2 separate regions of the Homo sapiens genome follow, and region 2 is linked to region 1. Evidence: fine-mapped QTL for protein levels in blood plasma. Region 1 holds a variant in brackets. A gene starts in the other region. All regions are shown on their reverse strands.

What was found. PIP is the chance, under the fine-mapping model, that this variant and not a neighbour inherited with it causes the effect. Protein levels are from antibody-based Olink assays in UK Biobank. Linkage for the fine-mapping came from a reference panel and not from the study's own genotypes, which makes the PIPs less certain.
Region 2: FCN1 starts here. The variant in region 1 is fine-mapped to the plasma level of the FCN1 protein (UK Biobank, PIP above 0.99).

Annotation. Positions count from the first base shown.
Region 1 is chr11:73,231,884-73,236,271 of GRCh38, reverse strand. P2RY2 (purinergic receptor P2Y2) reads right to left here. Exons shown (of 3, transcript NM_002564.4): 3 at 1-2,116. The coding sequence starts at 2,112. The coding sequence ends at 979. Among named protein-coding and RNA genes, the nearest start is that of P2RY2, 16 kb to the right of the region's middle. The variant G/A (reference allele first, on the strand shown) is at 1,976.
Region 2 is chr9:134,917,502-134,921,889 of GRCh38, reverse strand. FCN1 (ficolin 1) reads left to right here and starts at 3,978. Exons shown (of 9, transcript NM_002003.5): 1 at 3,978-4,121. The coding sequence starts at 4,019.

The sequences.
Region 1 (4,388 bases):
AAAGAAGGGGTTCCCAGTTAAATCGGAGCTCCAGTTAAATGGCTTAACATTTACCAGCACATGACTGGCCATCACCTAAACTGGGAAATCTCAAGGACTGGGACTGCACCTGACTTTTCTCTGTGCTCAGCACAGAGTCAGGCACAGAAGCCAACTGGCTTTACAGTGGGGGATGACCTGGGGCCTGGAGAGAGGATCCCTGATATGAGACTACTCCTGAGACAGCTAGTGAGAAGGCAGGTGGCAGAAGGGAACGGATTGGAGAAAGGACCCTTGTGTGGCTGGTGAAAGCTTCCCTGCCATATCCTCATCCCCCGACCACACAATAGGGCACAGCTCAGCAGGCAACACAACCTTTAGTATAAGTTACAGCCTCACACTGGCTCCTAGCCCATGGGAGCCTCCAGATGGGTCTATGATATTAGTCCCCAGATGTTCATCTCTTGGGCTGGGGGTACTCCTCAGAGCTAAGTCCACCGTGGCACCCAGTCCATTCCAGACCACTGTGCAAACTCAGCCCTCATTACTTACCAGGGTTTTCTGGCCAACCTGTGACTTGGCCCCCACCCCAGGTAGCTCAGCTCCAGACTCTGGTATGTGATCTTGGTAAGCCACCTTCCTCTCTGGGCCTGTTTCTCCATTTGACTTGATTAGGCTGGACTCCAACCTAGGTACCTTGGCAGTACAGCCAGCTACTTGCATGGGAGTCAGGCCAGGGGTGTCATTGACCTTGAGCTCTTGCCTTTCTTGAAACTTAATTCCCCCAACTTATACACACAAACGATGACTAGGGGTTATGGGAACAGTTGACTCTGGACCACAGAGTGAATATCCTGAGCCCCTGTCAAATGACGGAGCATGGGGTCATCCAGCATGAGTCACTGATGGTCCATATCTGGGGAGACTGTGGCGTCTGCACAAGTCCTGGTCCTCTACAGCTTCCCAATATAAACCTGCACAGGCTGAAGTGTTCTGCTCCTACAGCCGAATGTCCTTAGTGTTCTCGCTACCAGCCGGCGTGGACTCTGTCCGCCTAGAGTCCTCACTGCTGCCCAACACATCTTCTATCCTCTGCATGTCAGTTCTGTCGGATCTGCGCAGGCCCAGCCTGCGGCGAGCCGGGGTGGCAGGGCTGGGGCCAGTGGGTGGCTTGGCATCTCGGGCAAAGCGTACGAGCCTCTGCCCAGCCAGGAAGTAGAGCACGGGGTCAAGGCAACTGTTAGCACTGGCCAGCGGCCGGGTAACCTTGTAGGCCATGTTGATGGCGTTGAGGGTGTGGCAGCTGAGGTCCAGCGAGCGGAAGGAGTAGTAGAGGGTGCGGGTGACGTGGAATGGCAGGAAGCAGAGGGCGAAGACAGCCAGCACCACGGCGATGGTGCGCACGGACTTGCGCTTGGCCCTAGGCAGGCCGCCCGAGGTCCCGTAGGCTGGCTTTAGCAGTCGCCGAGCCATGAGCACGTAACAGACAAGGATGACGGCAAAGGGCACCGCGAAGAGCAGGCCCAGCATGACTGAGCTGTAGGCCACGAAGCGGCTGAAGAGCTCGGGTGCCGAGGTGTCGTGGCAGGTTACGCGGCCCCCGCGCGCGCTGGTGGTGACAAAGTAGAGCACGGGGGCCTGGCAGGCCAGCACCAACACCCACACGGCCCCGGCCACCCGGCGAGCGTAGCGGGCCCGGCCCCAGCGCAGGGAGCGCAGAGGTCGTAAGACGCCCAGACACCGGTGCACGCTGATGCAGGTGAGGAAGAGGATGCTGCAGTAAAGGTTGGTGTAGAAGAGGAAGCGCACCAGCTTGCAGAGCACCGTGCTGAAGGGCCAGTGGTCGCCGCGGGCGTAGTAATAGACCAGCAGCGGCAGGGAGGCCGCATACAGTGCATCAGACACAGCCAGGTGGAACATATATGTGGTGGACGCATTCCAGGTCTTGAGGCGGCACAAGAAGATGTAGAGCGCCACGGCGTTCAGACACAGCCCA[G/A]GCACGCACACCACGCCGTAGGACACAGGCAGCAGCACGTACTTGAAGTCCTCGTTGAAGCGGCACCTGTAGCCCAGCTCATCCCCATCCCAGGTGCCATTGATGGTGTCATTCCAGGGGCCCAGGTCTGCTGCCATCGCCCTGCAGGGAAGGGAGGGGTGGGGCCATCAGGGTTGTGGCCGGAGCGCCCCTAGGGGACCTGACACAGCCACCTGACCAGGGCTTTCATTGCCATCTGACTTGGATCTGGACCTGGAACCTCCAAGCTCTGGAACCTTGAGAATGCATGAGATCAATGAATAAATATCAGGATCACACAATTGTCAAACTTGAGAACAGGGGTAGACAAACTATAGTCCAAAGGCCAGATCCAGTCTGCTTTTGTAAATTCAGCTTTGTTGGAACACAACGGTGCCCATCTGTTTACAAAGAGTTGAGTAGTTGTGATAAAGACCATATGGCCTGTGAAGTCTAAAATATTCACTATCTGACCTTTAAAAAAAGTTAGCTCAAGCTGGCTACGGTGGCTCATGCCTATAATCCTAGCCACTCAGGAGGCCAAGGCAGAAACCAGGTGTTTAAGCCCAGCCTAGGCAACAAAGTGAGACCCCATCTCTACAAAATTCTTTTAAAAATTAGCCAGGCATGCTGGCACACACCCGTAGTCCCAGCTACTTGAAGTTTTCTTACCCCTCTCTAGAACCTCAGGATCAGAGTTTTAGATCTAGGATTCTGAGCTCTAGAATCTGAGGACCTGGGGGTGCCAGAGCAGGTAATTTTGAGTTCATGGGAAGGGGCCTTTGAGGCTGGCTGGCCCTGCTTCACACCCAATGCCTACTGCCTGCAGAGGCATTTCTGGCCAGTGGGCATCCAACAGCCCCCTGCAGGCATTACAGAGTTCTCTCCAGCTCATTTTCCCACTCTCTGGGAGGCTCTGGGCCCATGCCTAGTGTTCTGGTATTTGAGGAAGTATTTCCAAGGGTCTCCTTCTTCAGTTATTCCTTCACTTTTTACATCTTCCTCTATTCTGGCACTTTCTATATCTATCAACAGCAGTCCTGCCCCTGAGCCTGTGAGGCTACCAGGGAATCCCCCTGAAGTAACCCCCGTGAAGAGTCCAGGGAAATCTGGGTTGGAGATAGGGATAGGGGGCCAAGGGATCTTCTTTTGTGTGGTAAATGCAGCTTCTTCCATGCCTATCCAGTTTCTCTCTGCATATCGTCAGTATCATGGTGTCCCCCCCAACCTTGTCCCCACTGAGCATATAACACACCCATGGGGACTGACCATCCAACAGACAGTGAGTGCCCAGGGAGCAGCTTGTCCCCTCCCTCTCCTCCTTACCCCTACCCAGGTGACCAATTAAGAGCTCTCTCGCAGCTGGGAGGTAGAGGACAGACATCCCGGCCTGGAAGACAAAGACGTGCCTAACGTCCCAGGAGGCAGGTTGGAAATCATAGCAGAAGTCCTGGGTGGGCAAGTTTGAGAAAAACACAAAAAAGCACTTTCTAGCAGTGTGAAGGGGCAGGAGGAGCTAACATTTTTCAAACCCTACTACTAAGCATGCTTTCTAAAAGTTATTCACTTAGGCCGGGCGCGGTGGCTCACACCTGTAATCCCACCACTTTGGGAGGCTGAGGCGGGTGGATCACTTGAGGCCAGGAGTTCAAGACCAACCTGGCCAACATGGAGAAACCCTGTCTCTACTAAAAATACACACACACAAAATTAGCCTGGTGTGGTGGTAGTCCCAGCTACTCGGAAGTCTGAGGTGGGAGGATCACCTGGGCCCAGGAGGTGGAGGTTGCAGTGAGCTAAAATCATGCCACTGTACTCCAGCCTGGGTGACACAGCAAGACTCTGTCTCAGAAAAAAAAAAGTTACTACACTTTATCCATATGATGTGTTCTGGGGGCCAAGTCACCATCCCCAGTTCTCCAATCAAGAGGCTAAGATACAGATCATGTAAGTTATTTGGTCAAGGTCATGCCACTGGGGATGGGCTGCAATATCTGTCCAGGTCCAGCCCCTGGAAGTGGCTGTAGGAGGGTGGTAGTGAACTCCCTGTTTATGGGAGTATGCAAGTGGCTCTCTAGCAGAGGCTGCAGAAGGGCTTGTGCCTGTGTGGGGGTGTGTCTGGGAGGGTGGAAAGGGCAGATGAAGAGTGAGTCCTCCTCATCCTGAGAATCTGGGGCCGTATAATTCCCTTTATTTTATTTTATTTGTTTATTTTTAATTTTTAATTTTTAGACGGAGTCCACCTCTGTTGCCAAGGCTGGAGTACAATGGCCTGATCTCGGCTCACTGCAACCTCTGCCTCCCAGGTTCAAGCGATTCTCCTGTCTCAGCCTCCTGAGTAGTTGGGATTACAGGCACATGCTACCACACCTGGCTAATTTTTATATTTTTAGTA
Region 2 (4,388 bases), not on the chromosome of region 1:
TGGTTATGGAATATGCTGGTCGTAGGGAATTGTTGGGAATACTGCCAGTTTTCCGAAGTGCTTGTACCAAGGTTTCTGACACTTCTTCACCAAAACCTTGCAGAGTTGGCTGTTTAGAAAAATTTTAGTGTCTGCAGTCATCTCATGAGATTTAAGTTTTCATTTCTTGGATTAGTTATGAAGTTGAGCATGTTTTCATACTTCCATCATCTATTAAATATTATCTTTTATAAGCGTTTGTTGAAGTCACTTTCCCACTTTCTACAACATCGTTGATTTACAGAAACCCTTTATTCTGGATACAAGCCTTTTGTCACTTCTGTGTGTTGAAACCTCTCTTCCCTCACCCTGGCTCGTCTTTTCCCTCCCACGGTGGTGTATTTTGAAAAAGAAATAATACTATTTTCATGATCAATTTTTCCACTTGTCCTTTATGGTTTGTGGTTTTCCATCTTATTTAAAATAACTGCAAGGCTATTGGAGATCTTATAATATGATCTAAAACTGCTGTTTTCCCTCTCACATTTGGGTCTACCCTTCTCCTGATGTGGATTTTTTTTTCATCTGATAAAAGTCAAGTGTAACTTCTTGTTTTTCCATATGACTCTCCAGTAGTTTGTGCCACTCATTGAAAGTTTATTCTTTCACTATTGCTCTTTAGAGCCACCATGTCATAAATCTAGGGTCCGTATGTGCCTGGATTTGCTTCTGCACTCCCTACTCACTTCCCTAGGTTTGCTGTGTACGCCTAAGCCAGCCCCACACTGTCTCCATCACTATCGCTTGATAATGACTGCTGGTGTCACTTCAAGCAACTCACCCTTGTTTTTTCTTGCTCAAGAATAGCATGGCTATCAGCCTCTTGCCTTTATATAAATTTTATTTATTTATTTATTTATTTGTTTATTTATTTAGACAGAGTTTCACTCTGTTGCCCAGGCTGGAGTGCAGTGGTGCAATCTCGGCTCACTGCAACCTCCACCTCCCGGGTTCAAGCAATTCTCCCACCTCAGCCTCCTGAGTAGCTGGGACTACAGGCATGTACCACCACACCCTGCTAAATATATATATTATATATTTTTTGAGATGGAATCTCACTCTGTCGTCCAGGCTGGAGTACAGTGGCTCGATCTTGGCTCACTGCAACCTCCGCCTCCTGGGTTCAAGCAATTCTCCTGTCTCAGCCTCCTAAGTAGCTGGGTTTACAGGTGCCCACCATCATGCCTAGCTAATTTTTGTATTTTTAGTAGAGACAGGGTTTTACCATGTTGGCCAGGCTGGTCTTGAATTCCTGACCTCAAGTAATCTACCTGTCTCAGCCTCCTAAAGTGATGGGATTACAGGTGTGAGCCACTGCACCCGGCCCTTTATATAAATTTTAAATTCACCATGTCAATTGTCACAGAAAATGGTAGTTTAATTGATAATACAGTGGATATTTAGATAAATTAAGAGAAGATGAATGTTTTTCCTATATTTGGTATTCTAATCCACACATATAGAATATCCTTCTAATTATTTTAATCTTCTTTTAGGTCTTTCTGTTCCTATTTGATAGTTTTGTACACAGAAGACCAGCATGGATGTTGTTAGACTTATTCACAGTTATTTGAATTTGGTGTTGCTGATGCAAATTTTTTAAATTTCATTTTTAAATTCTTTGAGGCTAGTTTTTAGAAGCACAATTGATTTTTGCTAAACTTTTTATTCTGCTAGTTTATCTGTAGAAACTCTAGAATTTTCTACATCCTCAATCATGTCTTCTGAAAATAACAACTTTGTGTCTGCCTTTCCAATCTTTTTATGGTTTTGTTCTCTTGCCTACTGCACTGGACAGTGACATGCAATACAATGTTGACCACAGTGGTGATGACAAGCATCCTTATTTGTTCTCAGTCTCTGAGGATGGTTTTCCATTTTTCCTGTTAATTATGTTGTAACTTCTGTATCCACAGCTTCCAAAGACCTCTTTCTATATTCTGTTGTTTCTGTTGGTCCTTATACACATTGTCTTTTATTCCCATGAGCCTGGTTATCGTTGATTGTGTTTTAACATTTCATTTGAAAAAAATAAAACACTTTGCAGAAATAATGACCTGGGATGATGTCATTCTCCTTCAGAGAAGATTTTTGTTTCTTTCAGCAAGGAGCCTGGGGGCATGAGCAATAATTCCAGGAGTTGAGATTCCTTTCCTGGGACACTTAGATGTCTCAAAACCAGTTTGCAGCCCTTGTGAATGTTGGTTGTTGCTCACTCATCCTATTGCTAGGGTGCAGCCCTTCTGAAAGCCAACCCCAAACCCATACCTTTGGCAGGCCGTAGGCCCCAGTCTTTGACCTTCAGCTCTGCAAGATGGTGAAATCACTGCCCAACTTCTCACCTCTCTTTTGGAGATTGGCAAATCCCTGTGCAAAAAGAGGTCCCCACTACTAGTTTCACTTCTCTAAGATTTCTGTGGCTCCTGAGAGCTTGGCAAAGTAATCCTTTACTACATAGCTAGCTTGACGGTGCCTTCGAGCAAATCTCTTTTTAAAGGTTTTGTCTGTTTGTCCTTAATAGGATGCCCCCAAATACCTAAACTGCCATTGCCAGGAATCAAATGACTTTTGTTGATCCAATGTTAAGATATTTTAACTTGCCAGAATCTTGCATTCTTTCATACTCTTGGGAACATTGACTTGATATCTGAAGGTGGTGTTGACTTCTCACCTGAAATAAACCTATTGATGTTGCAAGGAAGAGGAGGTCCCCTCACACCCAGGGGGCAGCTGGCAAATGGAATTGAGGGGCACAGACCTGCTGGCTTTCTCCCTGTTCTGACCCAATCCCAGGTGAGTGCTGCTCCTGAATTGGATCCTCTCCAAGAAAGGAGGCCGCACCACTGACACCCAGACCTCTCCCGCCTGGGCCAGTAGCTCAGGGACACTAAGCGGTGTCTGAGGCAATGAAGCCTCCTGCCGTTGTCTCTCAACAGGCTGGAGCCAACACACACAAACACACACAGTCGAGAGTCGTTGTGGTGCCCAGAGAGCCTGGACACAAGGTCCTGTGTCTCCTGGATCCCCCACCCCTGGGCCGCCCCTCCACTTCTCTCCCACCTGGGGAGCCCTTGAGTTTGGAAACCCAGTCTACACACGCTGGCTCAGAGAAGTTGCAAACCACAAAACAACACCTCTCCCTGCTCCTTAGTCCTGCTACCATCTGACTCTCGTTAGTGACTATTTCTATACGTTCTAAAAATCCCGCACAAAGTGTCCACAGCGTGGCCTGGCTAAGCATGATTCACAGCACGAGATGCGGAGTAGGAACATGGCCTCAGGGATTTGGGGGAACAAGAGGCATCCCCACCTTCAGGTGAAATGAGCAATCCCAGTGATCTACAAGGCGTTAGACAGAATTGAGTCCAATGCCTGGCTCTTACTAGTGGAGTGACTTCAATTTCTCCAGCTGTAACTTTCAAATAATTTACTCCACCGAATGGGGCTGGTGCAAGATGATATGATGGAAATAGTATTTGGGACATAACAAGTGCTCAACATTTTTTTCCTCTCCATCCATGATAAGTGCCTGATGACGGACAAACCCTGAATTTTCTGGGAACAGATGAGGCAAGGAAGCGTCTTCAGCAAAACCTTCCTTATCCCCCAAGGTTAAGGTCAAGGTTTCCGAGTATTGCTTGGGGACAGCTGGGGAATGGAAAGGGGGTGTGGGGGCTGTGTTCTCCTTAAGCCACAAGCAAAGCCGATGCTTTCCAGCAGAGGAGTCTCAGGAGCTCTCTGGACTGGGAGCAGGGTGTCTTTGCTGGGGGAAGAGAGCCCAATGGGGTGGGCATCTTGCTGGAGCCTAGTGGAAGGAAACATCCTTTGAGATGACCTCATACCTCCTGTTGGTGCAACTAAGCAGCCCATAGGAAGTGGGTGTCCCCCAGGGAGTTGAGAAACTGTGGCACAAGGCGAGAGCTGGTTTCCTCTGCCCTGTTAGAGCTGGGGGACTCTTCAGAGTCAAAGGCCAGAGAGCATGGAGCTGAGTGGAGCCACCATGGCCCGGGGGCTCGCTGTCCTGCTAGTCTTGTTCCTGCATATCAAGAACCTGCCTGCCCAGGCTGCGGACACATGTCCAGGTGAGACAGACCTGGGTTTTCTGGTCCCTAAAAGCTGGTAACAACCCCACTCACTGACACTCGGGTGTCCCAGGCAAAACCTTTTATGCACATCTTCCTGTGAAGATGCCCAACAGATCTGTTTTATCCTCAGGCAAGGACATGGAGGCTCAGGGCAGCTGAGGCATTGCCCAGGGTCATGGAGGGATAGGGGAGGGATGTCACCAGGTCTGTCTGCCTCGAAAGCCCAGGATTTGCCCATTGGAGCTTCATAGGTGGGTCTGGAAT